Homo sapiens: one gene and its partners. The protein of the gene in region 2 purifies or fractionates together with the protein of the main gene of each other region. This does not show direct contact. Each region holds a gene or a part of one and is shown on either strand. Other genes may lie near its edges.

Region 1 (7,767 bases), on a different chromosome or scaffold from region 2:
CTTTCGCTCATCATGAGATTCACCCACCTTGTGTAGTTTTAGTTCATACATTCTCAATACTTTGTAGTATTCCATTGTGTGACTATATTAAAATATAGATATCTCTCTTGCTGTTAAGAGGCATCTGGGTAGTTTCCAGTTTGGTCTATTGTGAATAGTGTTGCTATGAACATTCTTGTTCATGTCTTTTGGTGAATATATTTATGCATTTCTCTTGGGTGGGTCCCTAGAGTTGAGGTTTCTGGGATCTCTCTCTCTCTCTTTCTCTTTCTCTCTCTCTCTTTAGGTATATTCAGCTTGAGTAGATGCTACCATCTCTGTGGCTGACATATTAGCAGATTATTTTGAGCTGGCCTGGTGTGCACCTGTAATCCCAGCTCCTCAGGAGGCTGAGGCGGGAGGATCACTTGAGCCAGGAGTTCGAGACCAACTTGGACAACATAGCAAGACCCTGTCTCAGTCAGTCAATCAATCAATGATAAATTTTGGTGCTGAGTGAAGAACAGAATGTGACAGTTGGTGGGGGGTGGCAAGAGTGGAAATGGAGAGACCAGATAGGAGCCTATTGTAATAGTCCTAGCAAAGGATGACAGTGGCTTTGGCCAGGGTAACAAGAGATGGAGGAAAGCACACTCATACAGGATGCATTATACAGGGAAAGCTGACAGGACCTGCTGATGGGTTGAATGTGGAGAGACGAGGAAAAGAGAGGAATCAAGGTTGACTGTTAGGTTTTTGGTTTGAACAACTAGGTGGACAGTTATGTCAATTACTGAGATGGAGAAGAATAGGAAAATAACAGGTGTGTGGGAGAATCAAGAATTCTGGTTTGGCCATGTTAAGTTTGATATGCTCATTAGGTTTCCAAGTAGAAACATCAAATAGATGGTTAGAACTCAGTGAAGATGTCAGATGGGAGATACGAATCTGGGGCCCTCAAATCAGCATACAGATTTTTTTTTTTTTTTTTTTTTTTGAGATGGAGTTTCGCTCTTGTTGCCCAGGCTGGAGTGCAATGGCGCGATCTCGGCTCACCGCAACCTCCACCTCCCCAGTTCAAGTGATTCTCCTGCCTCAGCCTCCCGAGTAGCTGGGATTACAGGCATGTACCACCACGCCCAGCTAATTTTGTATTTTTAGTAGAGACGGGGTTTCTCCATGTTCAGGCTAGTCTCGAACTCCCAACCTCAGGTGATCTGCCTGCCTTGGCCTCTCAAAGTGCTGGGATTACAGGCATTAGCCCCCGTGCGTGTCTGGCCGAATACAGATGATACTTAAAGCTATGAACATGCATAGATCCTCTTTTTTTTTTTTTTTTTTTTGAGACGGAGTCTCGCTCTGTCGCCCAGGCTGGAGTGCAGTGGCGCGATCTCAGCTCACTGCAAGCTCTGCCTCCCAGGTTCACGCCATTCTCCTGCCTCAGCCTCCTGAGTAGCTGGGACTACAGGCGCCCGCCACCACGCCCGGCTAATTTTTTGTATTTTTGGTAGAGACGGGGTTTCACCGTGTTAGCCAGGATGGTCTCTATCTCCTGACCTCGTGATCCACCCGCCTCGGCCTCCCAAAGTGCTGGGATTACAGGCGTGAGCCACCGCGCCTGGCCGAACATGCATAGATCCTCTTAGGGAGAAAGTGTAAGCAGAGAATAAAGGACCTAAGTCTCCTGAAGCATGCCACCATTAAGAAGTGGAGCAGAGGAGGAAGAGCCAGCAAAGGAAATGGGGAATCACTGTTGAGGCTGGAGAAAGATCAGAACAGGTTGCTGTGTGTATTTTAAGAAGGGGAGTGGCTAATATATTGAGTACTACTGAGAGATTCAAATAAGATGAGAGGTGACCACTGGTGTCAACATGGTAGTCATTGGTAACCTAACAAAAATTATATCAGTGAGAAAGTGGGGTTGAGAAGTCTGATTAGAGTGGATTGGAGTAAATGGGGCATGAGGAAGTAGAGTAAGAGACAATAAATAATTCAAGAAGTCTTGCCAGGAAGGAGAGCACAGAAAGGGAGTAACAGCTACAGAGGAATCTGGATTCGGGGGGGAGTTTTCTCAAGATAGGGGATATTGGTTATGTCTGGAAATGACCCAGCAGAGGATGTGATGTAGGAAAAAGAGGGGCTAATCATGGGCACAGACATGGGATTGAGAAAGTCAAAGGGGATGGAATCCAAAGCACAAAAGGAAGAGATAGGAACAGGTTTGTTTCCTTCAATGAAAGAGGAAAGGCAGAAAGTATTTTGCAGATTGGCAGATTTGGTGGTGAGATGATGAGGTAGTTCTCATCTGCTTCTGTTTTCTCAATAAAGAATGAGCCCAGGCCATAAGTTGGAGGTGGGAGAGAAGGAATACTGGAGGTTCAGGGAGATGAGAAAGTATGATAGTCATTGGGAGGGTGGGAGAGCAAACTTGTCAGGAGCATGTAGTAGGAGCTCAGGCAGTGTTGTGCACTCATTTGAGATTTTGGGACATGAATTTAAAATTAGACCAGTCATCAGTGATCACATGTGACTTGTAAGCACCCAGAAATGAATAGTTATTGTTAAGTGTAGTGGTACTCTCCAGTTGTTCACTGAATAAACAAATGAATGGAGTATTATATTAAACACTTGGATGGGGAGGAGGAAGGGAAATAAAGAGAATGTGTATCTGTCTTATAACCTACTTGAAGGAGACAAAACATAATTATTTGAGAACAAAGCATATTTTAACAGGCACAAACATATTAGCTTTTCCAGTTGATGTTATAAATTCTGACTGGAATAAGAATAGTGGCATACTTAAAATAGAATGGAGTAAATGTGGGAAATAATTCCTGAAGTTTCAAATCGGATCTCAAAAGTTCCCAGGGAAATGTGTTAACAGAAAACATGTAAAAGGGGGAAAACTGATAGAGCATGATGTTATATGTGGCCTTCTATAAGCTGAAAAGGACTTTGAGCTTGAAAGCAGGAATGGAAATAATTACTGTAATTTAAGGAGTAACCTCTTCATGCTAAGCATTAACAGATCACTTACTTACCTGACAGTGGCTACTATTTATTTTGTGTCTAAGCACTGTGCTAATTGTTTTACATATATTATTTCTAATATTCACAACACTACAAAATTACATACTATTATTTATTACTAATTATTAAAATTCCATCTTACAGATGAGGGAATCGAGACTCAGCATTTCAATAATTTGCCCAAGATTCCAGTTAGTAAGGAGCTGAGGTGGGATTTGAAGCCCAGGTCTCTGATCCCAAAGGCCATAGTCAGTCTTCTGTGCTTTACTCCATTTAATTGTGTATTCCCCTCATTTTCCTAGCACTTAGTAGAGAGGCCAGCCTAGGATAAATGTTCAACAGCAAGAGCGACCCCAAAATACAAATCTGATGACCTCCTTTTGCACTTAATCTAGATTGTTTACTAACAACCCTCCTCACCCTCAGCTCACTAGTCTTTGTCTTCAAGACAATCTCTTTCCTTCCCTAGAGCATTTGCCTGAGCTGCCCTTATACCTCTCAAGGCTCTTCTCACTCTTTCCATGCTAACCTCTTTATATCCTTTAGATCACAGCTTGCCTGTTCAGAGGCCTTCCTTGGCCATTCGATCTAAAATAGATCTCTCGTATTTTCTATGTCATCCACTTTTTCCCTAACATTTATCAAATTTTGCAGTTACCTTGTCAGTTTACTTTCTGGTGTTTTTCCAATATTATGCCCCATGGGACCAGCGACCTTGAATCTTGTTTGCCTTTGATTTCCCAGAGCTGTGCTCTTCAATACAGAAGCCAGCAGCCACATGTGGCTACTGAGCACTGTACTACAAATGTGGTGTTGCCTTATTGAGATGTGCAGTTAAGTGTAAAATACGCACTGGATTTTGAAGACTTGGTATGAGAAAAGAATGCATAAGATCTCGATTTTTAAATGTTGATTACATGTTGAAATACTTGTATAAACTGGGTTAAATGTATGACTAAAATTTTCACTTGTTTTACTTTTTAATTGTGGCTACTAGAAGATTTCAACCTACATATGTGACTCACATATTTCTAGAATCTGACACAGTGCCCTGCCCCATTTTATTGAATGATATATCCAATGTCGAGAGAGAGAGATCGAATGAATGGGTGCATGAAGAGGTATAGTCTCATGCTTCCACTAGGCAAATAGATACAGCACTGCCGTAGAAGTTAGGAGATCTGGGTTCTGGCTCAGGATGTACTGGAAACGCCTTGGACAAGCCCTACCCTACTCTGGGGATCAATTTGCCAATTAGGTAGTTGATCTTTGAGGTCTGGAAGCTTACGAGAATCAGTTGGCAGGGAAATGTACCAGGAAAGCTTGGTACAACGGCGCTTGTCTTTTTCGCTCTAGCCTAAACACTTGAGCCTCGGCAAACGGGCAGAGGCAGCGGGAATCAGGGACTACACCCCCGAACCCAGTACCCGGGTCCCCGACTTCCCCGAGCCTACGTCACTGGGGCGCGACGGCGTTGTCCCCGGGAGTGCAGCGGCTGAGAAGGTCCCTTCGGTGAAGGCGAGTTCCGGGACAACAGAGAGGGCCGCACCGTTTCCGAGTCTCTCGGAGGCTCAGTTCTCAGCGCACCATTCCCCACAGCTCTCCTTTTTACTTTACCCCTACCCGACACTTGACCCCGGCAGTGTGAACCCCGCTGGGAGCGTCCAAAGCCATGCCTCATCGCGGCTGCGCAGCGCACGTGCACAGCCTCGCAGGAGTCTCGGCGATTGGCTGTGACGCAGTTTCCGGCGTGAGCGGCGAAAGCCGGGAGGGCGAGCGAGAGAGCAAGCAGGCAGCAGGCTGCCGGCGGGCGGGCGGACGGCACAGAGGGAGGGAGCGAGCGAGCAGTGAGTAAGCCAGCAAGGGCGGTCGGGTCCCGAGGTCAGCCGAGATTTCTCAGGTCCCTCCGGCCCCCTCCCTGGAGTCCACAGCGCCTCCGGTGTCCAGAGGATCGGACACGGCCCGGCCCGGCCATGGCCTCGTTGCTGAAGGTGGATCAGGAAGTGAAGCTCAAGGTAGCGGCACCGGTCCGGCCTTTTTGCCCCTCGCTTTGATCCCCCAGCAGTCTGACCGGCTTCCTACTCCCCATGGCGTCTTTGTCTCCCTGGGGATACCAGCTCTGAGCTTCCGCTCGGCTCAGCCCAGCCCCCAACTCCCGGGGTCGGCTTCGCGGGAGAGGAAAATATAGGATGGCTTTCTGTACCGCGTCTGATGATGGAGAGTCCCGGGGACACCTCCGCGGACACGTGTTGGACTCAGGGCTTTAGGCCCGTGACAGCTGGTAATCCCCCAGCCCAACAACGTCCCTGGACACTGCCCCTGCCCTTGGCGGCTGGCCTGCCTAGTATCATAGACTAGGTCTGGGTGGGGGTTGGCACGTTTGTGAGCTCACATCTTCCCTAACTACCTGTCTTTTGTCTGCTTATCAAATTCAGACAGCTTCAGACACAGGAGGAAGGGAGGGAAGGGGGAGGACAGAGGAGACAGGCAGGTGCTGTCCTCAAAGCCCTGCGTTCTTCTGAGATGGAAAAATGGATCCTCAAAAAAATAAAGTATTTGCAGTCTGGGGGCCTCTCAGCTTCTTATTACAGTTACAAGGTGAGGGAAAGACAGTTGGATTGGGATTCTCCATCCTGCTCTTACCTCTGTCCCCAGGTACTGAATTGCTCTCTTTGTTAATTTTAGGTTGATTCTTTCAGGGAGCGGATCACAAGTGAGGTGAGTGAAATAAATAGAAAAATGGTTGTTGGTTGAGAATTTCCCAAAGAGGAGATACCTGGAGAGAGAGAGAGAGAGAGAGAGAGAGAGAGACCTTCCCACAGATATTAATTCAGCTGTATTTTCCCTCTTCCTTAGGCAGAAGACTTGGTGGCAAATTTTTTCCCAAAGAAGTTATTAGAACTTGATAGTTTTCTGAAGGTGAGAGACCCTATTCTTTCCTCAAATTCCCCAATTTTTTTGGCCCTGGTATTACTGTCAACTGGGATAAACTGTTGATTCTTCTTCTTTTTATTTTTTTAAACTGTAAAAGCACTTTCATTTCTTGCTCTTCAAATCAAATACTTCTTTGTTCAGCTTGAAAAGATTAATGTTTTGGGGTGGGTGTCTTTCAGGAACCAATCTTAAACATCCATGACCTAACTCAGATCCACTCTGACATGAATCTCCCAGTCCCTGACCCCATTCTTCTCACCAATAGCCATGATGGACTGGATGGTGTAAGTGTCCTATATTTATCTTTGTGTTCTTGAGCAGTAGGTCCTCTGTCCTCTGTTTCCTTGTCAGTTTAAGATGTACAGAGGGAACAGTGGGATTTGGATCTGGGAACTAGGACTCTGTTACAGACATGATGACTCTAGTATAGTTCTTTTATTTCTTATTTATTTATTTATTTTTGAGAAAGGGTGTCACTTTTTTTGCCCAAGCTGGAGTGTAGTGGCGGGAATGCTGCTCACTGCAGCCTTGACCTCCCGAACTCAAGCGATCCTTCCTCCTCAGCCTCGCAGGTAGCTGGGACTACAGGAGTCCACCACCATGCCCACTGATTTTTGTATTTTTTGTAGAGATGGGGTTTCACCATGTTGCCCAGGCCGGTCTCAAACTCCTGAGCTCAAGTAATCCACCCGCCTCAGCGTCCCAAAGTGCTGGGATTACAGGCGTGAGTCACTGCACGGGGACTCCAGTATATTCCTTTTAGACCCTCAGTTTCATTTACGACGTGAAGTGAATGTGCTAATGCTACTGTCAGTGTTAGAGTGAGTTTCAAATAAAAGAGAACTAGCTTAGGCCAGGCACCTTGGCTCACGCCTGTAATCCCAGCACTTTGGGAGGCCGACGTGGACGGATCATGAGGTCAGGAGATCAAGACCATCCTGGCTAACACCGTGAAACCCTGTCTCTACTGAAAATACAAAAAATTAACTGGGTGTGGTTGTGGGCCCCTGTAGTCCCAGCTACTTCGGAGGCTGAGGCAGGAGAATGGCATGAACCCAGGAGGCGGAGCTTGCAGTGAGCTGAGATTGCGCCACTGTACTCCAGCCTGGGCGACAGAGCGAGACTCTGTCTCAAAAAAAAAAAAAGAGAACTAGCTTCATCAGGTTACCTGGTTTTTCCCATGGCTCTGAACAAGACTTTGCTTATATTTGTTTGCATGTCTTGAGTAGTGTTATGGGATATGCAGTTCTCGCTATGTAACTGCAATTGCTATCTTTGCTTTGCATCTCTAACACCTAGTCCTTATCAGTCATGTGTCCACATGCTACTATAACACTGATGATACCGTATTGTTGTCTGTAGTACTGCCTCATTGTTGAACTTGTACATCTGGAAGGCAGGAACTATCTTTTTTTTTTTTTTTTTTTCCTTGAGACAGAGTCTCACTCTGTTGCCTAGGCTGGGTGCAGTGGCGCGATCTCAGCTTACTGTAACCTCCGCCTCCCGGGTTCAAGTGATTCTCCCACCTCAGCCTCCCACGTAGCTGAGATTACAGGTGCACACCACCACGCCCAGCCAATTTTTTTATTTTTAGTGGAGACAGGGTTTCACCATGTTGTCCAGACTGGTCTCGAACTCCTGACCTCAGGTGATCCGCCCGCCTCAGCCTCCCAAAGTGCTGGGATTACAGCCATGAGCCATCGTGCTCGGCCGGCAGGAGCTATCTTAATCTTTGTATTCCCAGCACCTAGTGTTGATCCTGGTCCCTAGCAATTGCTGAATACATGTTTGTTAACTGAATAATGTGTTCCTTTGTGGAACCAG
Region 2 (7,020 bases):
TGTGACCGTGGAAGTTGAACCAGTCAGACATCAAGACACACAGGCTGGAGGAGGAGGATGGGCAGGGCTCAGGCTGTGTGCTGGGGGCCTGCCTCACCCCCTCTCTCAGATGAAGACAGTTCCCAACTCTCTCCTAGGCCACCGGGTCACACACCAGAATGCAGATACACACAGTGCAAGAGAAATCAGAGCAAGAGCACCTCTCCCCACCAGCCATCACCCAATACCCAGATGAGCTCTGGGCAAGGACTAAGCTTCCTGCGGGGGGTAGGGGAGATGTCCACGGTTCTGGTCCAAGCCCTCCGAGCTTCCCTACTTATGATATGGAAGCAGCCCTGCCTCAGAGTTGCTGAGGGAGAGATGGAAAGTGCTAGTGCACTCCGCAGGACTGGTGCTGCTTTTCTCCACTTGCTCACTCTGCTGAGCTTCGTGAGGGTCTGTGCTGGATTCACCCATCTGCCCAGGCTCAGCACAGTGCGTGGAGGAGAGTGCTCAGTGTGTCTGCCACAGAAAGGCCCTCCTTTGGGTATCTCCTACTATGTGAGAGCCCCAACTTCATGTTTTTATCTTGTTTTATGCCCAGCATAACCCAGTGAGCTCCCCAATTCACAAAACGCAGGGCTGGGAGGCCTTCCTCAGGACACAGAGACAGCTGGGGTGAAGACTGGACTGCAGTCTAAAGGCTTCCAGCAAGACCTTTGCCACACTCCCCTGGTTCTGAGTGTGGGGAGAAGGCACAGTGCGGATGGGTGAAGGCACACTACTAAGCCCCTGGGGGTCCAGCAGCCCCACTGAAGGCTTCCCTCCCACTCCTTGCAGATACTCACAACTTGTTTTCTTTGTCCTTCTCCTTGATTTTTTTGAGCACGTTGATTTCTAGCCGGGCAGCCTCCCGGTACTTGCCCACGTTGCGGATGATCTTCAGGGCAACCTGAGACTTCCCTCTGGTACCCGGGAAGGAAACAGAGGTTCTCATCAGCAGCTGCCCAGTCCTTCCCCAACCCTCCACCCCAACCCAGCAACTCCCAACAAACACCACTCCAGGAGCAGCCGGCACTGAAGAGAGCAGATACTGGATGCCCAGCCTGCCCCATGCAACACCAGACCTTTGCCCACCCAACAGCAAGCTCCCTGAGATCTGTGAGTTAATGCTCTTAGCATCCTTGCCATCCTTAGGCTTTTATGTTCTCAGCCACTGCCAGCTCCCAAAGGAGTGTGGGAGAGTAGAGGCCAATCCTGCTTAACCAGTGCCAGTCCAAGAGCTCACACAGTGACCTAACCTATAGGCCAGGCAGCCCCAACCCTGGCCAGGCTGTCCCACCGAGAACCCTCCTGCGGCGCCTCTTGACCTTCCTGAGCTTGTCTGCAAGTCTGAGCAAACAGGGATGGGGGTTCCAGGATCGAGTAAAGATCTGGCAAGAGGTAGGGGTACCAGCAAGGGTACCTCTCACTGTGAGGCCCAGGGCCACTCCCTTTACCACACCCCTCTCCAGCCGCACCTACCTGCCACAGTGTTTATCAGTGACCACAAAATGCCAGGAACCCTTCTTAAGTGTCCAAAGAAGGTTTTAACAGTCCCTGCTCTGTGCCTCCCACCCCCAACCTCACCCCAGGAGGCCATCTGCAGGGAGCCAGCAGAGAAGGAAACCTGCTGAGGCTCAACTGCCAGGCCCTGTCAGGAAAGGACAGCTAGAATTCAGATGCCCAGTGGGGAACGAGACAGTCCTAGCCTGGAAGGGCGTGTCCTCTGAGGCCTCAGGGAGGCTGACTGTGGTGCCTAAGGCTCACAGGCCCAGGATAAAGGGACCTTCTAGAGAATCCCCTGCTTTTTTCTCCCTACCTATTTTCCCAGATTCTCAGGGCAGGAAGGGACCTCAGGGGAAAGGCCATGCACTCCGGCCTCCTCCTAAAACAGGGTCCCTCCGTGGCATTCCAGTCCTCAGCACAGGGAGCTCATCACTTCCAAGGCAGCCCCTGTCAGAGTTGCACTGCTCTTAGAATAAGACCCTGCCTTTCGCTGAGCTGAATTCTGCCTCTGCATGACAACCCCCACTGGCCCTGGCTCCCTTTGAGTCCCGTAAAGTTTCCCTGGACCCTCCACCTGCCCCCTAGTGACTCCAGAGGCTCATTTTCCCTCCAGCTCCTGAGAGAGGAGCAGCCCAGAATGCCTACATGCATCCCGGCTGTTGAGTCTGCCATGTCTCCACCTGGCCACGGTGTGGTTGTGCATGTCCCTCCACCCACTGGTCCCAACCCTAACCTCTTGGGCCACGCTGAGTCGTACAGGCATTTACATAGGAACTTGGAGCAAATGGACACTTCCTCTCAGTCTATCTCGTGGCCACAGGAAAGGCTGGACGCCTGGGTCTGAATGACCTGAACACCCCATTTAATGTAGGAGCACTACAGCGCAGTGGTGGCCAGCTCTGCTGTTAACTGGAGTATGATGCAGGCAAACCCTGAGCATGTTTATTCATCTCTGAAATAGCGAGAGGGCCACATATGGGTGGCATGTGGCTCCAATGAGGACACAAGCACTTTGTAGCTGAAGTGCCAAACCAACTAGAGAGCCTATGGCAGGGTGGCAACTGGCTCCCTGGAGGTGGCCTCCCCAACCCAGACCTATAGGAGAGGAAGCAAATGTTCTAGTCTTGTGGAATGGTAAGGGGAAAAAACTATTGTACTGTTGGGCTTGGGAGAGAGTGAGGTGCAGCATGACACACACAGGTATACCCCACTCTCCCAGGCACACTCAGCGGAGACCACACACTACCCTAGTCACACTGAAGAAGGCAGCAGCCTGCTTGGTGAGAAAGCCCAGGGTCATGTTTCTCTCGACTGAGATCTGCACAGCCTCTCAGGCAGACCCTCAGGGAATGGGACTTATGCTTGGGCTGGGCTTATTGGTACTCCTAGCCCCTTGCTAAGCCAAGAACCTAAAAGTTATCACAGGAAGCAGCTCCAAGCCACAGGGGAGCCGGGGCCTTGGCCCTGTTCTGATATCCACCACCACAGCCCTGGAGAAGTGAAGAGATTGGAGCAGAACCTTTCACTGACCAACAATTCTTGGGTAGGGATGCCACATAACTGCAGGACCCAAGAATTTCTCCCTTATTACAGGGGGTCAGCAAAACCCCAACATGGACAGGTCGGAACCCTACTTTGATGCCACCCTTCAAAAAGAAAAAAGTTAAGCTCTGATAGCTGCCACCCTCAAGAACCTCAGGCCAGCTCTTCCCAGGAAGATCACATCCGGAGCCAGCTGTACTGCCGCAGCTCGCTCACCTGGCATGGTCCAAGCACTCCACCACCTTGCCAAAGGTGCCTTCACCCAGGTTCCCCACAATCTCATCTAGGAGAGAAAAGAAATTGGGCATGAGAATCTGGAGGGCAGGGGGTTGGCAGCTCCTGCAAGTTCACAGCATTCAAATTCTCAAAAACAAAAAAGGTTTCTCTCTCACTGCTACACTCTTAAAAATGGAAGTTGCTAGTGTCTGTGTCATTCAGGCAATTACTGGTGGCCCCGCTAAGGCACCACGCGCACTAGAGGCCCCTCCAGGCAGGAGAGGTCTCGTCTAACAAGGGGGGTAGAAAGTAGAGAGGTAAAGTTTTACGAAAGGTGGCTGTACATCGCTCTTGGAGCCAATCGCCGATCCGGCACACCAGGTGACCCTCCTTGTCATCTTCCACACTCCGGCTGCTGCGCTTACTGCTCTGTTGGCTTCTCTGCATGCACCGCCCCCCGAAACGCCATCCGACCAATCGCATGGTAGGCGGTTCCGATTGACAGATTGAGGTGTCAGTCAAAGGCAGAGGTGGAGACGGTGAGGAGCCGGTGGGTTGGTTGGTTGGATTTTCCAGATCCCAGCATTTCATAAGGCACACAGCATATATAACGATAGGGATATTGCAAGGGACACGTCAAGACACAAACTGACTTCAAAAACAGAAAAGTAAAAACAGCTACAGGTATGTAAAGAAAACTCGGACATTATCTTTAAGAGGAGCGCCACAAACGCTCAGGAAGATGACCTGCCTCTGCTGCTGAGGGCCACGCTGTGAGGAGAGCCATCGCCCCGACTCCCTCCTCCTCCTCCTCCGAGTCTCTCCCTCCCAGACCCTCCCATGTGGCTTTGGGCCAGAGCGGAAGATGCAGTGAGAACGGCGGCGCAAGAAGGCAGCTGGCCCCGCCTGGGTCCAACCATCCAGACTGGTCAGCGGCTGCTCCGGCTTCAGCTGCAGAATGCCCAGCCTGTCCTTGCCTGCCTCTGTTCGCCCACGCAGACTTGCACATGCCTGACAGCTGCCACTCACAGCCAAGCTGCTACCTGCCTCCAGACGGCATCCTTGGCCAGATTTCACCATCACTACCAGAAACAGCCTTCCGTCAGCAGCCCTCCTGCCACCAGCCTCAAGAAGGAAAGCAGCCTGGGATCCTCTGGGCCAGTCGACTGCCAGGCTTCCTACCACAATGGCCCACACAGGCCCCATGCCAGCTCCTGCCCTGGCCTTGGCACCCATGCTGCTCACAATCTAGGCCCATCCCAAGCCTCACGACGATCGATAGAGGGCACCAAACAGAGAAACAGAGCCAGACCTGCACTGCCATCCTGTGGCAGCATGTGGCAGTGTGCAAAGAGGTGAAAGGGCCACGCTGCAATCGCCCGCACAGTCAACCCTCAACCTGTAGCCACTCAAAGAAGTCACAGAAAGCGCTGGGCAGAGAAGACACCTGGCCTCTCCACTGCTCCTCAGGGGCCTCAAGGCCGGCAGGAGGGAGGCAGGGAAGAGGGATGGGGGAGAAGAGAAGACCGCACGTAACCTCGGAAATACACAACTGGCTTTGCTTCCCCAGGGGACTGAGCGCAATGTGGGCTCCAGAGACCTTACAACCCTCCATGCTAGGAATACTGGCCAGGCCCTGCTCTGGGCATGTGGCCTGCAACTGGACGAGGCCTGGGGCGGCAGCCTTTCTGCCATTTCTTCACATGCCCCATCACACAGGCACCTGCCCCTCCTCACCGCGACTGCCCCTCGTAAAGAGGCTCGGCTGGAGAGGGCCTGGCTGGAGATCAGAAGGGAAGTTCCCAGTCTGAGCTGGCTGACAGGCAAATCCTCCGGTCCTGTGAGGCACTCCAGACTGGGGGCCTTTGGGAAGGGGTGTGCAGATGAGACGCAGAGGTGGGTGCAGTCCACATCAGAGCACTCAGTTACACGAGGAGGCAGTCTCTGGGTGGGAAGGACCAGGCCATATAGCTGCAGACCACCATACCAGCCACTCTACTAGGATCCCTAAGAAGTGTCCTAAGAAGTGTCCCCAGCCACTTGCACCACGTGGCCTTTGTCTGGAGCACTGTGTAGACATAGACAGGCCAGGGGCCAGCCAGCATCGGAGCCAGAGTTCCTACAGTTGCCACTGGAAAGAGCCAGAAGACACAGAGGCCAGGACCCTGTGATCAGCCCTACACCTGGACCAGACAACACATACACACACACATGCACGCACACCAGTGCACGTGCACAGGGCTGGCAGTACTCACCCGGACCAGCCAGCCTGAGAGAAGGCTAGGAAGAGATGAGGCCTTTAAGCCCCAGCCAGCACACTCTGGCTACCACTCACCGAGGAGGCGCTGCTACAAGACCTGGTGCGGCGTTTGTGGCAGTGGTGGGCATGCTTGCGGGTCCGGTATGGCCCCCTCTCCCGCGATCGCCGACGATGACGAGAACGTGAAGGTCCATAGTAGTCCTCTCCAAAGGATGGGCTCCGCTCTTCACACCGGTATGTATCGCTGTCACGGCGCTCCCGGTACCTCCTCTGGTAGGGCAGGCGGTCATGGCTGCCAAAAGGGGGATGGGGACGCTGGTCAGCTGGGTCCTTGCTGTTAGCAAGCAAGAGACCTGTGGTAAGGCCACTGTAAAGGGCTAAAGGGGGACAGCCTGTGCTAAAAGCATCCACACTGGTGGGAAGTGGGCAGAGAGGGGAGGGTGCAAAGGTACTAAGCCCGCCCTCCAGAGCCCTGTCCAACGACAGCATCCTCCAGCTGTAGGAGGAGGGGTACAGGGGAAGGGGAGTATGGTAGAGTGCCTCCAAGGGTTCTATACCCTTCCAGAGTTCCCTGTGGCCTGCTGCAACTCTAAGTTTGACCTGGGAGCTAAGATAGGCCCAGGGAGCAAACTTTCCAGGGGTGAGGTTATGTTCCTAATCCTCACCAAGGAAGGCTTAGGAGGTTAAGCGGAAAGATGCTGGCCTAGAAAATGGGGGAATGTGTGGGGAGAAGAAAAGGCACTCCAAGACAGAGAAAGAGTGGGCGGCAAGGATGGTAGCTACTGCTGAGGCCAAGGCATGCAGGTGAGGTTAGTGGAGGAGCCCAAAGAGGACAGGGCAGGGATCCAGGGACAGCTGGGCAGGGATGGAGTCATCTCAAGGAGTCTGGAGCTGCCACAGCTGAGCCCAGCTGACAGAAGGAGTCTTTCCCTCCTATCTAGTTCCCTCTCACCTTCTGGACCGAGATCTTCGTGGGGGAGGCTCCCTTCGGGACGGGTATCGCAGTCTCCCTTCATGTTCCCGACTGTAGGACCTCCTCCTCTTCCATCGGTAGCTCAGGTACGGGTCTGGTTCAGGGGAGCGGTATCGCTTACAGTGATGCATCTAGGCCACGAGGAACAGAGAGCCCTGCTAAACACACAGCCAGCCACCTCCAGCCATGGGGCTGCTGGGGCTTCCCGGTTGCTCCTGAAGAGGCCCATTGTTCTGTTTGAAGGCGGCCCCTCCCAGAGGTTTATGAAGTGAAGAAGAACTCTGAGGTCACACTGGTCAAACAGCAGACAATAGGAAACAACTTTCTCTGCCAGTGAACAAACAAACAGCTCCCAGCAGAGCATCACTAGCCTGGTGGCCTGGGTGCTCAGGGAACTGGGTGAGCCAGGGCCAGGGGCTGAGGCAGTAACCCTGGGTGGGGACGGTGAACACTACCACAGGGAGATCAAAGGCAGGAGAAAGGGGAGCCTCCTGCACTCTAT
Region 3 (7,569 bases), on a different chromosome or scaffold from region 2:
CACCTGAGGTTGGGAGTTTTCAACCAGCCTAGCCAATATGGTGAAACCCCATCTCTACTAAGAATACAAAAAATTCGCTGGGTGTGGTGGCGCGTGCCTGTAATCCCAGCTACTCGGGAGACTGAGGCAGGAGAATCACTTGAATCCGGGAGGCAGAGGTTGCAGTTAGCCAAGATCGAGCCACTGCATTCTAGCCTGGGCGTGACAGAGTGAGACTCTGTCTCAATTAAAGAAAGAAAGAAAGAAAGGAAGGAAGGAAGGAAGGAAGGAAGGAAGGAAGGAAGGAAGGAAAAAGAGTTCATGTCCTTTGCAGGGACATAGATGAAGCTGGAAACCATCATTCTCAGCAAACTAACACAAGAACAGAAAACCAAACACCGCATGTTCTCACTCATAGGTGGGAGCTGAACAATGAGAATACATGGACACCAGGAGGGGAACATCACACACTGGGGCCTGTTGGGGGGTGGGGGGCTAGGGGAGGTATAACATTAGGAGAAATACCTAATGTAGATGACAGGTTGATGGGTGCAGCAAACCACCATGGCACGTGTATACCTGTGTAACAAACCTGCACGTTCTGTACATGTATCCCAGAACTTAAAGTATAATAAATAAATTAATTAGTTAAAAAAAGGAGAAAGAAAAAAGAAATGCAGGTTCCAGGTTTAAATCTCTGCTCAGCCACTCAGTCCCCATGGCCACTTTTCTGTGATGTGTATTAGTGGGATTATGTTTGGGTTTGAGTGTGTGTGTGCTGAATTCAGCTTCTGCAGGAAGTCTTTCTAAACACCCAGCCACACCCTCTATTTCTATCAGTATCCTAATAACAATGTGTCATTATATCTTTTTGATCATGTTATTTCATTTCAGTTTCCTCCACTAAATGTCAGCTCCACTGGGGCAGGGAGTTTTGTTCTGTTAATTGCTGTGTCCCTGGCACCTGGTACATAGTAGGTGCTGAATAAATATTGAATAGATGAAAGCAGTGCTGTGTCTATATGCTATGTGGGGAAGAGTGGGCACTGGCTGGACACCATGAGTTCCTGGGCACACAGTGCTCAGTTCTGGTCTCTGTCCACAGCTGTTCACAACCCTTGCTTTAACCACCTTCTTTTTTTTTTTTTTTTTTTTTTTTGGTGAGGCAGAGTCTCACTCTGTCTCCCAGGCTGAAGTGCAGTGACGTGATCATGGCTCACTACAGCCTCGACCTCCTGGGCTCAAGTGATCCTCCCACCTCAGCCTCCCAATTATCGGGATTACAGATGTGAGCCATCGTGCTGGGCCCATCTTCAATTTTGTAGAAATGTTGACATTCTGGGATTCACTGTCTCCTGTATCAAATTCAAGGGAGTGGGGTGGATTGGTTTATGCTAAGCCTTCTTCCTAATCTACAGTTCTAGAATCTAGTCTTAAACTAATCCCCTCTTTAATTCATTTAAGATTTTCTTTTTTTTGAGTTTTGCTCTTGTCACCCAGGCTGGAGTGCAATGGCACTATCTCAGCTCACTGCAACCTCTGCCTCCCGGGTTCAAGCCATTCTCCTGCCTCAGCATCCTGAATAGCTGGGACTACAGGCGTGTGCCACCATGCCCAGCTAAGGATTTATTTTTTGTTTTTATTTTTTTTTAGAGATGGGTGTCGCTGGGATCCTCCAGCCAGCCTCCCGAGTAGCTGGGACTACAGGCTCACACCAGGGTGCCACGCTCATTCAACATTTATTGAGCACCTACTGTGTGCCAGGCACTGTTCTAGACCTGATCCTGCCCTCATGAGCTCAGACCCAAGGAGGAAGGCAGGCAGGATCCAGAAGTCTTACTTAATCTGTTTTTTGTTTTTTGTTTTTTTTTCTGACAGAGTCTTGCTCTGTCACCCAAACTGGAGTGCAGTGGTGTGATCTTGGCTCACTGCAACCACCGCCTCCCGGGTTTAAGCAATTCTTCTGCCTCAGCCTCCCGGGTAGCTGGGATTACAGGCGCCTGCCACCACGCCCGACTAATTTTTGTATTTTTAGTAGACATGGGGTTTCACCATGTTGGCCAGGCTGGTCTCGAACTCCTGACCTCAAGTGATCCGCCTGCCTCGGCCTCCCAAAGTGCTAGGATTACAGGCGTGAGCCACTGTGCCCAGCTTCTCCTTTAATCTTGAGTGCCTTTCCCTAGTCTCTCTCTGTCCGAGGACAGAATTTTAGTCTTCACAGTCTGAAATCACCCGCGGGGATTTGTATGTTTATACAGGGATCCTGCTCCCTCACTAGCCAGGAGCAGGGACCCCTACTGGGTTTGTTGGTTGCTGCTGCCCCAAAGCCTGGTCACAGTGCCCAGTACATCGTAAGTAGACACTTGGGAAAGAGATGTGAAATGAGCTAATAAATAAAATGATGGCGCAAAAGCAGGCTCCGCGAGCACGATTTCGCGGAATCCTAGGTGTGTGTCATTACCCACTTTGCAGAGGAGGAAATTGAGACTCAGGAAGGCAAAGCCGCCTGCCGGGCCCCACCGCAGCTCAGTGGTATGTGGCTATGGGATGTAGCAGAAGAAGCAAAGGTAGCCCCAAAAAGCGTTCCCAATTCCCGCAAACCTCCCCCCCACACACACACACAGGCAGGAGAGACATAGCAGGGTTTGCACCGATGGGGGTGGGATGGGGACCGGGGACAGAGGGACAGTGCAAAGCAACTTAGGGGTCTCTCTCCTCAGTCCCCAGGGCTGGAGGTGCTGTGCTGGCAGATTAGGAAATGCTTGGGGTTGATGGGGAAGCTTCCGGCGCTCTATCCCCAGTTCTGGAAGCTGAGGCTCCGGGAACCCTGTTTTGCTGAAGCTGGGCAGCTCCAGTCTCCAGAGCCAGGAAGAGACCCCCGCGCCTATCCGGGAATCCCCGACATCTGGGATTCTCTCCAAACACCCCCAGGCTGATGACGGGGCCGAATCCCTAAAGGGCATACGGTGGGGGTGGGGGTACGACTTTCCTGGGGAGCCGGGGAACCCCCTACCTTCCTGGCCCCCTCCCACTGTGGCACCGTGTCCCCCTCCCCACCGCAGCTCGCAGCCCCAAGCTTACCTTGCGGGGGGCCTGGGGAGGGGATGCCCCGCCCTCCCTGGCCTGGGGGGCGGGAGGGGACGGGGGTGTCCAGACCCTTTGTTTGCTGGTGTGTGTGTGTATGTGTGTGTGCGATTGTGAGAGCCGCCGGGGTGTGGGTCCGTGCGCGCGCGTGCCCGGGCCGTGACGGCCACTGATGTGCTGGACTGCCAGGGTGGAGGGGAAGAGGGAGGGGTAGGAGATGGGGACTCCCCCGCCCCTGCCCGCCCACTCGCGGGTTTGAATGAAGCGCGAGGGGGAAGGGCGGCAGCGGGAGGACGTTTTTGTCCGATGGCCCTTCCCGCTCCATGCACCGGGGAATCCTCCCCCTTCTGGAGAACTTCGCTCGCTCTCTCCAGGCACTGCCTCCAACGTCGGCTCCAGGGGAGACTAGGAAGAGGCGCCCCTCACCGGAGTGGCTGGAGCTCCTCCTATCCAGCCTGACCCCCGAGGGAGCACCCTTTAATCTGAGATAATCCTGGCCCAAGGCTGCAACACGGCCTATTATCCTGGTATCAAAGCGTGGATTGGGATGCATGGAAGTGTGAGGTGGTCGAGGCCCTGCATGCTTAGAGTAATGGAGTCCTTAGAGCCCCGGCGGAGGAAGCGTACCCCAAGACGAACGGGGAGGGGCTATGCGTGGCCCCAGACTGTGACGACAAGGAAAGCCCCCTTCCACCCCTCCACGATTCCCCCCACCAAGCGCGGGGCCAGGAATACGCGCCGTGGGCTAGACTCTAGCGACACCCAGCGGCCAGCGGGGTGGGGAGCCGAGACCCGTTTTGAGGGGGTCCGGGTGATTCCAAAGTGTGTGTGTGTGTGTGTGTGCGTGTGTGTGTGTGTGTGTGTGTGTGTGCGCGCGCGCGCTCGCGCGAGTCCTCGCTGCGAATGGCAGGAGGTGGAAGACAAGGAGAAGGCTGTTGCCGAGGCGGGGAAACCCCAGCTCCCAAGGCAGGGCCACAGTCTCCCCTCCACGTTTAACCCTGCAAGGGGAGGGCCATACCACCCCCGATTTAGACACCCCCAGGGCAGGTCCAGTCCTCCTCGGGCTGAGAAAGTCCGAGGAGTCATCAGGCGCCCCTCTCCAGCGCAGGCTTAGGTCCCCGTTTACGAAGGGCAGGGGGAGGGCCTTCCCGCCGTGTCCCTACCCCTTGCAGACGTCACTGCGGCGTGGCTGAGGGGACAGTCCTCTCAGTCTCATCAACCGTCCCCTCCCTGCCACCCCAAACGCCCACCGTGGAGCGGCGGGAGATGAGGGGGGCTCGGAGTTGAAGCGCGCACTCATATGCCCCCAGGAGACCTAGCGGAGCCCCAGCGCCCGATGACGCGGAGTCTCTGCGGGAACTCCAGGGGGCCGGAACACTTACGCAGGGCCCTTTAAGGCTGGCTGGGTAGCTAGTGCCGCTGCCGCGGTTACTAGGGATGTGACGTCACACAGGGCGGGGTTTCCCGCGCTCGGCGGAAGCGGAAGGGGCGGGGCTCCGCGCTCCTAGTCTCCACTGCTGCCGCCGTCGCCGCCACCCGAGCCGGAGCGGGCTGGGCCGCCAAGGCAAGATGGTGGACTACAGCGTGTGGGACCACATTGAGGTGTCTGATGATGAAGACGAGACGCACCCCAACATCGACACGGCCAGTCTCTTCCGCTGGCGGCATCAGGTAAGGCGCGCGCGCCCATCCCTTTCCCCACTCCCGGACCCCGCTTCGGAGTTGTGATCCCCGATACTGCCCAGGGACCCCGCTGTTCACACCTAGGATTCTCACCCCCCCAGTCTGGATTTTCAGGAGCTTCGATTCAACTCCGGGACCCCAGTACCATTGGGACCCTGAGTCCCTGCCCTGGATCTCCGCTCCCCCACTCCCTGCTCCGATTTTTGCGTGGGATTCCCTATTCACCCCCTAGAACTTCTTCATAGTCTGGAGTCCCCTAGACGAGTCTTGGGGGTTCTCCCTAATTCTGTTCGGCAGTTAACATTTATACCCAGAACTCTGCCTCAAAGTTTGGACCCCAAATTCTTCTAGATGATCCCTCATCCTATTCGGGTATTCACTTCCTATCTGGGATCTCCCATCGCCCCCCCACCTCCGTAGTCTGGACCCCCAATACTTTGGTCTGTCCCGGGATCTACTTTCCGGGATCTTGATCCGGGGTTCCCATTCAGATCCGGAGTCGCCACTCCTTTTCTAAACGGAACAAGGAACTCTGTGCTACTCTGATATTCCTGTCCCTGCCCACACCCAGGACCCCCTTCCTAGAGTGTAGAACCGTCCCCCTTCAGGATCCTTAGTCTCACCGAGTACTTGGGTTTTGGAATCTGGTTCCCCTCTGGATCTAACTACCAGCTCCAACCCGATAGAGCCTCACATTCCAGCCTCTCCTTTGGCCTCCGGTAGACCCATTTCCCATTATACCAGGAAATCCTGCCCACGTGGCTTCCGGCCTAGCCAGAGCCCCTGCTCCTACTTGGTATTGCAGACCCTGTCACCACCCACTTCCCAGACTGGCTTCCTGTATGAGCCTCAGCCAGCATTGGAAACTCTCCCCTAACTCAAGCCCAGAACCCCAAACCCACCCCACCTTTTGTCCCCAGCCTGTTAGCTACTCTGTGACCCAAATTGTCCCTGCTCTTATCCAGGGACTCTCCTGGTCTGATTCTAAATTCACCACCCCTTCTTCTATCTGACCACAACAGAGGTCCCGAATCCAGACCCCAGAATCCCAAGCCTGGGTGATCCATGTCCCACCACCCTCTCAGTGCTCACGAGCCAATGGGATGACTAAGACTTAAAGGTTTAACCTCCTGCTACCCCAAATGAGTGTGCCTGCATTACATACCAGTGTCTGTTGTATTCCTTTTTTTTTTTTTTTTTTTTTTTTTGAGACGAAGTTTCCTTCTTGTCGCCCAGGCTGGAGTGCAGTGGCACAATCTTGGCTCACTGCAACCTCTGCCTCCCGGGTTCAAGTGATTCTCCTGCCTCAGCCTCCTGAGTAGCTGGGATTACAGGCATGATGCACCACCATGCCTGGCTAATTTTGTATTTTTGGTAGAGACAGGGTTTCTCCATGTTGGTCAGGCTGGTCTTGAACTTCCGACCTCAGTTGATCCACCCACCTCGGCCTCCCAAAGTGCTGGGATTACAGGCGTGAGCCACCGCACCCAGCCATGTTGTGCTCTTAAACGAAGGGCATATACCTCTCAGAACCTTCTAGTGAGGATCTCTTACCCCACCCTCCCATAGGGCAATTCCCCATCATTTATCCAGAAACAACTAGAAGGTCCCTTTCCCATCCTTCCAGAATACTCTGGAATACGGCATTAGTCTCTTCATCTAGCTCCCAGTCCCACTTCCAGACCTATTCCTTAAATCCTGAGTCTCCTGGGTAGTGTACCTGCCAAGCAAGCCACTGGAGTGTGGGAAGAAAGTTCTAGCGCTTCTATTTCTTGCCGTGTGTAACATTTTATTATGAAATATTTAAGACTTCCTCAAAGCTCCAAAGACTATTCTTGGGAAGACCTATTTCTGTCACATAAAGAGGTTAATCTTTACTACTGTGGAGAATGGTTTGGTCCTGCCGGGTGGGAGGGCCCCCCTCCTGCAGCGTAGTGTACCTGCCACACCCTCCTCCCTCTGGCACAGAGCTTTTCCTGTCCTGCCGCTGAGAACCCCGGTGGTTGTAGTGGCATGTAAGGGAGGCAGGGGGCTTCAGCGTCTCCAGCACAGGTTCAAGGACAGGCAAGCTTGGGTTCCAATCCTAGCCCCACCTCTTGCTGCTTCTTTCTTTCTTTGATGTGGCAAGACTCACAAGAAGCCTCCCTGAGCCCATGTGAAACCTGGGATAATATGGCCCCACCTCCCTGAGACCTTTGTAAGAATGAATTAAGACTGGGTCAGGAAAACTTGGGGCAGGTTTGGAAGGAAGCATTGTGGAGGGGAAGGAGAGATTGCTGTCGTTCAGAGCACAGGCCTGACTAGGTTCAAATCTCAGCTCTGTCTGTATCACTCACGTGCTGCGTGACTGCCAGGGAGCTGTTTGATCGCTCTGTGCCTCAGTTTCCCTACCTGAGAATCTGAATGATGTCCACCCCATAAGGTTGTTGTAAGGCTTACCTTATTCATTTAATATTTGTAATCCTTTTGGGGCAGTGGCTATTATCATCATCATCATTTAAATAATTTCTGTTCATGGTTAAAAAAAAAAAAATCTGTAGCCACATGTGGTGGCACATGCCTATAGTCCTAGCTACTCAGGAGACTGAGGCAGAAGGATCATTTGAGCCCAGAAGTTCAAGTCCAGCCTGAGCAACATAGCAAGACCTTGTCTCTCTCTTTTTTTTTTCGAGACAGGGCCTTGCTTTGTCACCCTGAGATGGCAGTGGCGCCATCTCAGCTCACTGCAACTTCCACCTTCCGGGCTCAAGTGATCCTCCTACTTCTGCCTCCTGAGTAGCTGGGACCACAGGTACACACCACCATGCCTGGTTGATTTTTGTA
Region 4 (7,020 bases), on a different chromosome or scaffold from region 2:
GGCTAAATACTGTATGATTCCACTTACATGAGGTACCAAGAATAGTCACATTCATAGAGACAGAAAGTAGAATGGTGGTTGCCAGGGATTGGGGCGGGGAGCAAATGGGCACCTATTTTGTTTAGTGGGCATAGATTTAGTTTTACAAGATGAAAAAGTTTTGAAGATGGATGATGGTGATGGTTGCACAACAATGTCAATGTATGTAATACCACTGAACTGCACACTTAAAAATGGTTAAAATGACTGGGCACGGTAGCTCATGCCTGTAATCCCAGCTACTTGGGAGGCTGAGGAGGCAAGATAGCTTGAGCCTGGGAGTTTAAGGCTGCAGTGAGCTATGATCGCACCACTGCACTCCAACCTGGGCAACAGAACAAGACCCTGTCTCAGAAAAAAAAAAAACGTTAAAATGCTAAATTTATGTTTTGAATGTTTTGCCACAAAAAAAAAAAAATCTATAAAACCTACTTTCCATTTCCTCCATAAACATCAGTGCAATCAATCACTGTAAAAGAATGCTGAAGAAATATCTGAAAAACTTTGGAAAAACTATTGTAATTAGAAAATATAGTAGTACCCTGATAATTTTACATCCTAAATCAAACTATCAACTTTGGCCCAAGGCCTGGCAAGACAAGAAACTAATCAAAATATGGAGAAATGCCACCACATAACAGACTACCATGGCAACAGAAATACTGTCACAAAATCACAAACATAGACTCCAATACTTCAAAGACATGAAATGTTCTATATTTGTACCGTACAGTACTTGGAATGTGGGTAAGTGCAAATAAGAAACTGATTTTAGGCCGGGCGCAGTGGCTCATGCCTGTAATCCCAGCACTCTGGGAGGCTGAGGTGGGTGGATCACGAGATCAGGAGATTGAGACCATTCTGGCTAACACAGTGAAACCCCATCTCCACTAACAATACAAAAAATTAGCCAGGCATGGTGGCATGCACCTGTAATCCCAGTTACTCGGGAGCCTGAGGCAGAATTGCTTGAACCCGGGAGGTGGAGGTTGCAGTGAGCCAAGATTGCACCACTGCACTCCAGCCTGAGTGACAGAGTGAGACTCCGTCTCAAAAAAAAAAAAAAAAAAAAAAGAAACTGATTTTAACTTTTACTTAATTTTAAGTTTAAATAGTCACACTAGACTGGTGGCTACTACACTGGATGACACAGCTACATTGGTACACTCTCTGGGAGAAAGATCTTTGGTTTTCATTATTTACATACTCCCAGTTTCTATCAGTGCAAGGCACAGAGTATTCCTAGACTGAACTCATCTACTGAAGTTGTATAGGAATATTTTCTATTTTCTAGAAGGCTTTCCTTTCAAAAGCATGTTTTGACTGGAAGGTGCAAGCATAAGCACACACAAAAAATGCCTAAACTTTCAAGATAAATCAGTAATGACCAGAGAAAAGCCAAAAACCCTAGGTTTTATAACCAGGCTAAAGAATCAATAAATTCCAAAAAGGAAAAGTACTAGCAAAGAAGTTTGAAGCTGATATTCCATGACCCATGTATTAATGTGTTCTCACACTGCTAATAAAGACATACCCAAGCCTGGGTAATTTATAAAGGAAAGGGGTTTAACTGACTCAGTTTCACATAGCTGGGGAGGCTTCACAATTATGGCGGAAGACGAAGGAAGAGCAAAGCGACGTCTTACATGGCGGCAGGCAAGAGAGAGCTTGTGGAGGGGAACTCACATTTATAAAACCATCAGAACTTGTGAGACTTATTCACTACCACAAGAACAGTATGAGGGAACCCCCCATCATGATTCAATTACCTCTACCTGGCCCCACCTTGCCACAAATCGGGGGGTATTATTACAAGGTGAGATGTGGGTGGGGACATAGCCAAACCATATCAACCCAAGACCTTTCTGATATGATATCTAAGAAGAAAATTCCTATGGACATGTGATAAACCAAACATGACAATGCCAACTTAGTCTATCAAAGCATGACTTTACTTCATCTGCTTTGTGCTTTTGATGCTTTCCATCAAAAAGCTGCATACACCCATGCTGAAGCATGCCTATTCAGTTTCCATACTGAACTATAAAACTTTTGAGGTAATATCTAACCCAAAGATTGTCTCTGTAAAAGTTATCTCCTACTTACAACTTAAATTAAAAACTTATAACTGAGTCGCTTAAGTAATTGGCCCTATGAAGAGATGGTCTTTCCTTCAATAGCTCTCTACAACTTCTACTAATTTTGGTTAGTAGGGGTGGACAAATGAAACTACTAAATATACAGGACAGGCTACTAAGATTCCTTTAAGATCTGCCTCAAAATACTCTCTTTCAGAACACTTTGAAGTTATCAGTGATATCTATCTATCACATAAAACAACCATGGCTGTACATCTCCAAAAATTTTGGTGGAAGTTTAGAGCAATGAATACAGATTCTTCAGAAAATGGCTGTTTTATACAAATATTAGAGAAAGAGAAAAGATGCTAACTCACAGTACAGGCTAAAGCATATTCAAATTATACCTCTATACCACGTCTACTGTCACCAGGTCATTCGAACTATACTCAATTACTCTCGGATTAGTTAGGTGGGGTGGTAGAGAAGAATAAGGATAATAGTTTCACAAATACATATTCTTGAAAGTAGTTTTTTAGCAAACCACACAAATTCTATGCCTTACCAATTTCAAATGGATGTTAAAACACTATAGTTATTACTACAGTTAAAACACGCTTTTGTTCCAGTAGACAAAATCTTCCGGAAAGAAAAAAACCACCACACACATTACTTTTGGTTACAAATGCCATTTAGTGACCACTTAAAGAGAGCCTTGGCCAGGCACAGTGACTCATGTCTGTAATCCTAGCACTTTGGGAGTCTGAGGTGAGAGAAGTGCTTGAGCCCAGGGGCTTGAGACCAGCCTGGGCAACATGGCAAGACCCTGACTCTACAAAAAATACAAAACATTAGCCAGGTATGGTGGTGCATGCCTGTAGTCCCAGCTGTCCAAGAGGCTGAGGTGGGAAGATCACCTGAACCCAGGCTCAGGTGAGCAAGGCTGCAGTGAGCAGTAATCACACCTCTGCGCTCCACAGCCTGGGTAACAGAGTGAGACCCTGTCTCAAAAAACTAAATAAATAGACCAGGTGCAGTGGCTCACACCTCTAATCCCAGCACTTTGGGAGGCCAAGGCGGCCAGATCACTTAAGGCCAGGAGTTTGAGACAAACCTGGCCAACATGGCAAAACCCCAATCTCTACTAAAAATACAAAAATTAGCCGGGCATGGTGGCATGTGCCTGTAGTCCCAGCTACTTGGGAGGCTGAGGCAAGAGAATTGCTTGAACCCAGGAGGCGGAGGTTGCAGTGAGCCAAGATGGTGCCACTGCACTCCGGCCTGGGCAACAGAGTGAGACTCTGTCTCAAAAAATAAATAAACAAAGAGAGCCTTATTGAGTCAAAAAGTTCCTCTCCCTTTCTGTACCTGAATATTTGCAAGTATGAAATGAGGGCAACATATACATCTCATAAAGGATTTAAAAAAAAAAAAGAAAGAAAAAAAAAGACTGGAAAGACTGAAGAGCATTAAAGGTGCTGAATATTGTTTATTTTTAACCATGTATATGGTGAAAAGTGACAGCAAAAATAAATAAAACTCGCAGATAAAGAAAAATGTGAGTTATCCAACTGAGTATCTGCATGTATGCACTTCTGACAATCAACATTTTTAAGAACCTGTGTGTGAAGTGTCTTGATTGTTTATCTTAATAACCATGGTTTATTTCTTCAACTATGGGTATTGGACTACATAAACAAATGTGACAAGAATCCCAGTCTAGTAGGGGAGGCAAAACACTTATTTTCAAAAAGGTTTATAAAAAGGCAAACACAATGAAGTAAAGTTCTCTAGGCATTCATTGGGGGCTGAAATCACTTTTGGCTGAAGAGAAGCAGGTAAGCCTTGAAGGAGAAAGCAGAATTTAGGTTGGGCTTTCAAAAGATGAGTTAGTTTCTGCATTTGAAGAAAGGGTTGGGAAAGGGTAAAAGCAGAGAAGAAAGTAAAGTTGGGCAAAGGCGGCATCCACTCTACCCCAAAATATTTGTGTACTATGAGAAATATTTCAGCTATTTGGATGCTGATGGGAAAGACTCAGTAAAGGAGTCTAAAGATGCAGACAAGACATAGGATAAACCAAAAGATCAAGGTCCCAGAAATTTCAGAAGATTGAGAGATGCAAAGCACCTAGATCTGACAAGAGGAGAAGCAGCTGCATACAACCATGCTGAAGTCTGACCAAATTGGAGGGGAAAGGTGATGGTGTATTTATAAAATGACTAGAATGATAGATCTTGGAATCCACATTTGGTAAGGAGAGAAGTAAAAACAAGAAGACCTAATAAAGAAGAAGTAAGGAACAGTCAATGAACTGAGGTTTTGATAAAATTCAAGAACTAATGCAGGGACTTCTGTTTAAAATGACTAAACTAACTGATTGAACACAGCTGTCTGCTTTCAGGTCCTTCCAAAAATCCAATAAAAATCAGAGTAAAGATCTTTTTTAAAAAAGGCAAAAACACATAAAGACAAAGAAAATGGAAACAGGTGACAGATATCAATAGAACTGTGGAAACTGGAAAGCTAAAGGACAGTGTTAACTGTCTTAGCAGATCCGAAAAGGCTGATATTTGCCTGGGGGTGGGGAGGGAGGATGAGACGAGAATAGGGAAGGCAAGGGACAAACTATTCATGTTGCAAAACCCAGGAAGACTGGGGAATTGGAAGCACAGGTACATCTGAAGGCAGATGCACAGGCGGAACAAAAAATAAAGGAGTGGAGCTGGATGTGGTGGTGTGCACCTGTAATTTCAGCTACTCAGGAGACTGAGGAGAGAGGATTGCCTGAGACCAAGAGTTCGGGTCCAACCTGGGCAATATAGCGAGACCCCAACTTTTCTTTTCTTTTTTTTCTTTTTTTAAAAAGGGTGAGGTGGGGTGGGCTGGGCGCAGTCACTCATGCCTGTAATCCCAGCACTTTGGGAGGCCAAGGTGGGCAGATCACAAGGTCAGGAGACCGAGACCATCCTGGCTAACATGGTGAAACCTTGTCTCTACTAAAAAATACAAAAAATTAGCTGGGCATGGTGGCAAGCACCTGTAGTCCCAGCTACTCTGGAGGCTGAGGCAGGAGAATGGCGTGAACCCGGGAGGCGGAGCTTGCAGTGAGCTGAGATGGCGCCACTGCACTCCAGCCTGGGAGACAGCGAGACTCTGTCTCAAAAAAAAAAAAAAAAAAAAGGGTGGGGGGGGAATCGGCTAGTAATGCAGCCTTAAAACAAAAAAAGAAAAAAGTTTAAATAAATAAAAGGGTCAAAATCTGTGTAAGAAGCAGTAGACTCCTAAATTTCCTCTCTGACTCTGAGCAACCAGGCTACTACTCTCCCACCATAACAGAAGACTCAAGGTTTACTGTGGAAAGATTGAAGTAGGTGGTCTCTGGACTCTTAGACAACAGACTCAGCTAAAGACAGGAGTATCATGCTGAAAAACAAGAGATTAAATTAAAACCTACATACTTAGTTGTGAGATCCATCCCCTGGCTTCATTCCCTGAACTGGCTTTAGAACACTGGCAGTCTAGCTTATAACCCCCAGGCTGACTAGAGAACTCAAGGTAAAAGCAGCCCAAGAAAAACAGACCAACAGAAAAGCAATGAGAGAAAGGATGAAGGTTCCCTTCTCGATGATCCATTAAATGGAAGAGTAACCCAAGAAAACATCATGGAATCCAAGAATCAGTGGATCCAGCACAACAAAGAGGCAAAGGGAATTCCCTAGGACAGTGTTTATGGAATCCCATGACAGTAATTATCCAACAGACCTAGCGAACCAGGCCAGACTGGAGCAGGGAAATGGAGGGCTCTTGGGATACATATTTCCTTTAGCCAAAAAAGAAAACAAATCACCAGTCTGAACAATGAGGATATTTACAGTACTGAGATTTGAGGGTGACTTATTGTGGATACCCAGAAAACAAAATGTTAAAAAAAAAAAGAGGTATTTGATTACCAACAGGAAAAAAAAGGTTCCACAAAATTTTGTTTTAAAAATAAAACTTAAATATTAGTAAAACTACATAAAGATTTCAAAAAAAACTAGGTGACATTATTTGATATTTTTGAGCCAGCAAACTGGAAAACAGTGGGTTATGATCACAGCAGAATGTCTGAATCAGTGATTTGGAGGTGTGGTGACTTTTTTTTTTTTTTTGTACAATCTTGCTGTTTCCCAGGCTAGAGTGCAGTAGCGAAATCATAGCTCACTCAGTCTTGAACTCCTGGGCTCAAGGGATCCTCCTGAGTAGCTGGGACTATAGGCAAATGTCACCACACCCAACTAATTTTCCTATTTTTTTGTAGAAATGAGGTCTCGCTATGTTGCCCAGGCTGGTCTTGAACTCCTGGGCTCAAGGGATCCTCCACCTTGGACTCCCAAAGTGCTGGGATTACAGGCAAGAGCCAATGGGCCTGGCCTGGCTGGCAACTTTTTTGTTTTTTTTGAAATGGAGTCGCGCTCTGTCGCCCAGGCTGGAGTGCAGTGACACAATATCAGCTCACTGCAACCTCCACCTCCTGGGTTCAAGAGATTCTCCTGCCTCAGCCTCCTGAGTAGCAGAGACTACAGGTGCGCACCACCACGCCCAGCTAATTTTTGTATTTTTAGTAGAAACGGGTTTTCACCATGTTGGCCAGGCTGGTCTCAAACCCCTGACCTCAAGCGATCCGCCCGCCTCAGCCTCCCAAAGTGTTGGGATTACAGGCGTGAGCCACTGCACGCCCAGCCTGGGTGGTGGCTTTTTAGTAAAGACAAGATCCAGGGTGTGATTGTGTGACCAGGTGGCTAAAGAGAATGAAGAGGTAAAGGAATCAGAAGGCCAAAGTGTTAGCTGAACTGTCAATCCAGATGCTGAAGTTGCCTAAACGTGATGTGTTACTGCTGGATATTTTCCAGATCCACTTTTC

The links.
Region 1: the proteins of CLK3 (region 2) and PSME3 purify together in Homo sapiens (affinity purification with mass spectrometry; 6 studies listed by BioGRID and IntAct, with this or other methods). This does not show direct contact.
Region 3: the proteins of CLK3 (region 2) and CDC37 purify together in Homo sapiens (affinity purification with mass spectrometry; 5 studies listed by BioGRID and IntAct, with this or other methods). This does not show direct contact.
Region 4: the proteins of CLK3 (region 2) and TNPO3 purify together in Homo sapiens (affinity purification with mass spectrometry; 5 studies listed by BioGRID and IntAct, with this or other methods). This does not show direct contact.

What each region holds. Positions count from the first base shown.
Region 1 is NC_000017.11:42,828,650-42,836,416, forward strand, and holds the start of PSME3 (proteasome activator complex subunit 3), read left to right. Parts: upstream 1-4,747; 5' UTR 4,748-4,982; coding exon 4,983-5,024; exon of another isoform or gene 5,025-5,290; intron 5,291-5,444; exon of another isoform or gene 5,445-5,532; coding exon of another isoform or gene 5,533-5,607; intron 5,608-5,694; coding exon 5,695-5,727; intron 5,728-5,865; coding exon 5,866-5,928; intron 5,929-6,122; coding exon 6,123-6,227; intron 6,228-7,767. UniProt on the Homo sapiens protein: Subunit of the 11S REG-gamma (also called PA28-gamma) proteasome regulator, a doughnut-shaped homoheptamer which associates with the proteasome. 11S REG-gamma activates the trypsin-like catalytic subunit of the proteasome but inhibits the chymotrypsin-like and postglutamyl-preferring (PGPH) subunits.
Region 2 is NC_000015.10:74,618,826-74,625,845, reverse strand, and holds part of CLK3 (dual specificity protein kinase CLK3), read right to left. Parts: intron 6,650-7,020; coding exon 6,498-6,649; intron 5,838-6,497; coding exon 5,621-5,837; intron 3,727-5,620; coding exon 3,630-3,726; intron 3,353-3,629; coding exon 3,286-3,352; intron 945-3,285; coding exon 828-944; intron 45-827; coding exon 1-44. UniProt on the Homo sapiens protein: Dual specificity kinase acting on both serine/threonine and tyrosine-containing substrates. Phosphorylates serine- and arginine-rich (SR) proteins of the spliceosomal complex.
Region 3 is NC_000019.10:10,400,543-10,408,111, reverse strand, and holds the start of CDC37 (hsp90 co-chaperone Cdc37), read left to right. Parts: upstream 1-4,569; 5' UTR 4,570-4,632; coding exon 4,633-4,734; intron 4,735-7,569. UniProt on the Homo sapiens protein: Co-chaperone that binds to numerous kinases and promotes their interaction with the Hsp90 complex, resulting in stabilization and promotion of their activity. Inhibits HSP90AA1 ATPase activity.
Region 4 is NC_000007.14:129,045,105-129,052,124, forward strand, and holds part of TNPO3 (transportin-3), read right to left. Parts: intron 1-7,020. UniProt on the Homo sapiens protein: Importin, which transports target proteins into the nucleus. Specifically mediates the nuclear import of splicing factor serine/arginine (SR) proteins, such as RBM4, SFRS1 and SFRS2, by recognizing phosphorylated SR domains.